2 separate regions of the Homo sapiens genome follow, and region 2 is linked to region 1. Evidence: fine-mapped expression QTL. A gene starts in region 1. The other region holds a variant in brackets. All regions are shown on one strand. Distances are from middle to middle.

Region 1 (2,763 bases):
TACTTTTATACACAATACAATGCTCTGAGGCAGCAGCACCATCCCCGTCATGCATAACTCATGAAGTGCTGGGCTGAATTCACAGAGCACCTTTGCAATTTATAGGGCAAAAATTAGGTGCCGTGAAGAATACACAGAAGTATGGATACAGCCACTGCCCCCCAGGGAACTGACCATCCAGTTAGGAGACACACACACAAAGAGATCACCGCAATGATGCCTTGTACTGTTAAGTGGCCAAAGACGTACAGTTTCTTATAGTATCTTTTATGGTGGGCAGAAGAACGCCCTGCATTTTGGGGAAAGCTACAAGTGCAGAGATTTGCCCCCGTGGTAAGACAGCAAATCAGTGAGAGCTACAGAGTAAGGTTGTAATATCATATTCATTTGGGTTAAAATGGAGGTGCTGTGGTAGCAGTGGCCTGACTTAAAGAAGGACCAGTGATATCAAACAGTAGCTGCTTGGCTTTGGAATGACACCATCATTGCCATCTTAGAATCTGAGAATGTTTCAGTCAAGAGGAAACCTTGAAAAAGCCTCCTTGTCACTCAGTCCACTTACAGTAGGAGCAGCAAGGCCTGTTCTTACACATGCGGGCTCCGGCTCATGCATCCACCTGATGCTCTCAAGGCTGCCAGAGGAAGGAGGAGGAGGGCTAGGGGAGGAAGCCAAGGGTATCCCACAAAGGAGATGACCACTGATAACTACCATGGATGAAATGGCCTAAGTCACTTCTGTGTCTTAGCCTTTCCTTTCAAATTGCCCCCTCCCCCTCCCATGTATCATGGGCATCACAGTCACAAAACACAAGAAATCAGAAGTCTGGAGACATTCCCCCTGTCCAATGCCCAAATCTAGGTCCCTGTTGCTTTCTTCCTGACCTGCTGGCCCACAACCACAGGTGGCCTCCAGAATTAATCCAAATGAGAGTCTCTGCCCTTCCAAAACATCTTAAGTGGATCATTCATCTCAGGCCACCTTCAGTGACAGGAAGGGGATTGAGGTCTGCGGAGAGCAAAACCTAATTCGGCCCTGTACCTGGATGCGGATGGGGTGGGGGAGGCGCGACGGGAGGCTGGGTACTCCAAGTTCAGCTGCGGGAGACGCCCCTCGCCCCCACCTGGCAGCCACAGAGGGTCGCCAGCCTAGGGGAGATGGTTCCTGCTGTCTTCAAATGAGCCCACCAAACCCCAGCCCGTGGGTATCGCAGCACCTACCTTGACCCAGGAGACCGTGTAGGGAACCTGCGGATCCCAGGGGGCGGTGCAGGGCAAGTCCACATCTTCGGAGCAAGCCACCTTCACCTCCGGCGTCGCGGGAGCCAGGCTGTAGGCTACAAGAAAGAGAGAGCGCGTCGTGAGCAAGCGACCGACGGGAGGGGGTGTCGTGGAGGGGCGGGGGGCGACAGGCGAGACAGGCGCTCGCGAGCCCTACCGCAGCTCAGGAGCAGAAGCTGGAGGCCGCGCGACATGGCTGGAGCGCTGCGCCGCTGCCACGAGCTGCAGAGCTGTGGCGCGCGGGCGCCGGCTGCCCTTTTATGCCCGCGCGTTCGGGAACTTCCCTGCGCGCCAGCCCGGGGGATTCCCCGGCGGGCAGCGGAAGCGGGTGGCGCGCCCTCCTAGTCCCGCTTAGGCCGGGGCGCCCCCGTCCCCGCCCCCTTCGCCCCCGTCCCCGCCCCCGTCCCCGCCCCCGTCGCACCCGCCGCCCTCGCCGCGTGCGCGTCCCCGCCCCCGCGCGCCCGGGCCGGGCGCCCCGAGTTCGCGTCGCTGCTGCGGCTGGCAGCGGCGACAGCAATCCCCGCGTGACGCCCAGCGCTGGGGGCTTTGCAGACCGCGCTCGCGCGCGTGACGCTGCCGTTGACCCGCAAAAGGAAGCCGGGAACCGGGCCATCCGAGCGGGATCTGCCCATTTTACGGAGGCCAAACCAGATTCCGAGAGGGTGGGCAACTTCCTCAGAAGCCCAGCCTGTCCTTGGGAACGCACTGGTGAACCCAAGTCCTCACTCTTCTCCAGAATCTGTGATAATCAAAGGCGCGTTAGATTTCCATGGAAACATACAAGTCTGTAGTACTTGGCTCCCTGCCTTCCCCGGGAGGTTATCAGTCAGTACCGTCCTGTTTAAATTATATCACCAAAGGAGAGTGTCTCCTATTAAAATAATAATTACACGCATACACAACATTTTTGGAAAAGAAAATTCTAGAAGACAATGAAATCACCTGTAATTCATCCAGGAAGTAACTTCAGTTAACATTTTTTTATATTATAAAATGTTTATAACATAACATAACGTAAAATATTTATAACATTTGTCAGTGCACAGATTGGTATTTTTAATGGTTTATTCTTCCTGCTATCTTGTAACCTACTTTCTTTTAGCTTAATAATTTGCAAGCGGTTCCACATCATTAAAAACTTCCAACAGCATCATTTTGGTCCATTGTTCAGTTGCACCATAAATTAGAATCGATTAGTGTTAGACATACAGGTTGTTTCTTTTTGTATTACTAATATTAGAAACAATACTGTGATTGCTATGGGAAACTTCAGTGTAGATAAATCTTTGCTCTAAAATTGCTTATTTTCTTAGAATAAATACCTCAAGGAAATTGTGCTAGGTGAAGGGGAGTTTCCAATTTTGTCAAATATTGCCAAAAAATTACCTGCAAGGAGGTGTCTTCAATCTATATTCCCATCTGCAAAGAGAGTGCCTGTTTGCCAACACAAACTGTTATCCAACCTTTCTATCTTTGTCCATCCAA
Region 2 (3,029 bases), 26 kb after region 1:
CCTCTTTTGTGACACCTTCCTTGGTTCCTTTAGCTTCTCTACAACTTGTCCACCCTAAATCCTTCTTTTTGGTGTCCTATATTTGGGCCCCTGATCATAGTCAATAAAACGTTTTCTAGAAGTCAGTCTGACATATTACTCAATACTTGCATGTTTGAAACCTTATCAACAAGACTATAAAGTCATTGAGAACAGGGACCATGCGAGTACAGGATGGATAATAAAATACTCTTATTAGGAACATTCTGTACCGTGATCTCTCATCTTTGGCAGAATAAGGCTTCCAGATGTTAGCTGGAAACACATCACCATTGCATTCATGGAATTAGCATAAGGCTATGCACACAGTAGACATAAGACGCATTCGAATATTTATGGAGTGTCCATTGGAGAAGCAAAAGTAACTGAGTTGTCAATCAAATAAATATTTCTGATCTATTAATACTCAATGTCATATGCCTTATCTTTTTTGATAAAGATAATATTCAAATTCTCAATTCCATAGATATTGAATATAAGCATTTCTCTTTCCCAGCCAAAATACATCAATAGAAATAAGTGAGAGATAGTGAAGCCACCTATTTAAAAGGCCTGTGAATCGCTTCTCAGCCTTTGGCGAAGATTAAGTTTAAAAGGACTATGAAGCAAAACCTTGTGTAAAGCTAATGTTTACTTCCTATTTTACAGTGCTCTGTTTCATTTTTATTAATAAAATACACTTTTGTGTATGACAGCTGATCATATTTGATTTTCATATTCTCTATTTAAGACCAGAGAATATTCTTCAGAACCACATTTTTTTTCCCACAGTTTAGTTTCAAATGTAGTATAGTTCCTCTTTTTATAAAACAAGTCAGGAAGGTTTGTTTTATATTAAAGCATTCAATGAAAGGGTGTTTTTTTTTTTTTAAATACAAATCTACTTTTCATATACTGGAACTTTCCAGATGACTGGTCAGATTACTACAATCGCATGTTATATTGATCTGGAGTTCAAAAAAACACCAAAAGAACAATGGGATAAGCCTGCTTTCCTTCCAAGTATGGGCATAGCTATCAAAGCACCACAACTGATTTTGCAATATTCCAGAAATTATACGTCAAAGTGAATCTTGTTCCTTCAAATCAGCCACCTTATTCATTTATTCCAAAGAATTGCCAGTGGTCAAAACTGTGCTGAAAATCTTTTTATGATTTCCTTCAAAGCCATTTAAAAAAATATATTATTAAAGGCAGCAACTCTTTGTCCTTTGGGAATGAATACGATTTTGGAAACAGAAAAAGTCATTTGGGAACAAATTTAGTGAAAAGAGCAATCAAACTGGGTGATATAAGGAAGAAATTCAGATTTGTCCATCATCTCACAGCCCAGAGATAACCACCATGAATATCTTGGCATATTTTATGCTAGTAAGTCTCTATGTATATATTTTAACATAAATAGGATGATGTCACGTGTGCAGATTTGCATCTCCCCTTTTTCTCCCCAGTCAATATTCCCATTATTCCTATTTTACAAGGATCAGACAAGCTAAGTAACAAGCAAACAGTCATACTTCAGAAAGTGTTCTAACTTCCAACTTCTTTCAAAATGCATTGAGGCTGAAAAAAGGAGAACAGTTATACCAAAAAAAAAAAAAAGCCTGATTTTCTATTCCCTATTCCTTGGTGATAATAGCAAGAATAGTACTTAGTTATAACACCACAATGCATGACACATGAGAGAGAAACCAAGAGTGAGAGAAAAGAAAATTATGTGGTTCCAACAGAAAATAAAGAGAATGAGATGCCTTGCCCAAGTCAATCATTTATGTAGACAACGTGTGTGTGCGCCTGCAT[G/A]TGTGTGTGTGTGAACACACCTTTTATTACAAGTCACAAAAGTTTATTACCCAGTCAATGCTCGGCTATGGAGTAACATCTCTTGAAATTGAAGAAGCACTACTTAAGGCAGGACCAGAGATGATGGAATGGGTGTTTGACATGTATCAGATCTTTTCAGAAACTGAGAGGGGTCGTACTGTTTATACATGCTTTCTAGGCACACAGAAACCTAAGTCTGTTTCCCAAACTCCAAGGCTGCACAGTCAGTGAGTTCAGCGTAGCCTCTCACCACTGTGTTGGACCTCTGTGGATCCAGTTTTGGGAGCGGGGTGGGTGTGGATTTTGTCTCAAACTCTCTCTATCTGGAATGTGTTCTGTAGTCTTAAAAACAAGAGCTGAATATGCTCAATCTCCACTTTGCCCCCCAAACTGAGGCCATCTCCCCAACACCCAACAGAAGATCCTGTTAGAAATTCTCGATTTGGTCCCACACAAGTTACTGCAATCTTCCTACTAGGGTTGAGATGCCAGAAGATCCCTGTTAGGGACTGAAAGTTTGTGTCTCTCCCCTTGCCACCAAATTCATGTATCAATATGTATTAGGAGGTGGGGCCTTTGGGAAGCGATTAGGTCATGAAGGGGAAGCCCTCATGAATGAGATCAATACCCTTCTAAAAGAGGCCAGAGAGCACACTCTTGCTGCTTCTACCATGTGAGGACATAGTGAGAGGATGCCATCTATAAACCTGGAAGAAGGTCCTCACCGGGTACTGAATTTGCCAGCACCTTGATCTTGGACTTCCCAGCCTCCAGAACTGTGAGCAACGATGTCATTTATAAGCCACCCAGTCTCTAGTATTTCTGTTATAGCAGCTCGAACTAAAACTATCCCTATTTTGCCCTTTTCTGCTTAAAACTTGCTTTTTTTGTAGAGCCAGTTTAGCCTAGAGGAGAAAGTTTCAGCTTTTGAATCCTACAAATTCTCCTTTTTCCACTTCTTCACTAAGTCAAGGTTGGAGAGTGACTTCATCTGCCTCAAAATGAACTTTCTCACCTGCGATAAATATGAAGGTATCAGGACATAAAATTATCTCATAAACCACACATTTGGGAACACTCCATAAAGCCAAATCACCCCAGTTGAACCCAGAAACAGTTCCACGGATTGAGAGAAGAGACTGATAAGAATCAAGAGAGTTAATCATTGC

The links. PIP is the estimated chance that this variant, and not a neighbour inherited with it, causes the effect.
Region 2: its variant is fine-mapped to the expression of CD83 in whole blood (TOPMed, PIP above 0.99).

The regions. Positions count from the first base shown.
Region 1 is chr6:14,116,521-14,119,283 of GRCh38, reverse strand. It overlaps CD83 (CD83 molecule), which reads right to left and starts at 1,512. Exons shown (of 5, transcript NM_004233.4): 1 at 1,436-1,512; 2 at 1,219-1,334. The coding sequence starts at 1,472. RefSeq lists cis regulatory regions at 215-715, 183-1,009, 580-1,080, 1,246-1,901, 1,085-1,901 and 1 more and silencers at 1,645-1,764, 1,892-2,186.
Region 2 is chr6:14,090,262-14,093,290 of GRCh38, reverse strand. No RefSeq gene overlaps it. Among named protein-coding and RNA genes, the nearest start is that of CD83, 26 kb to the left of the region's middle. The variant G/A (reference allele first, on the strand shown) is at 1,840.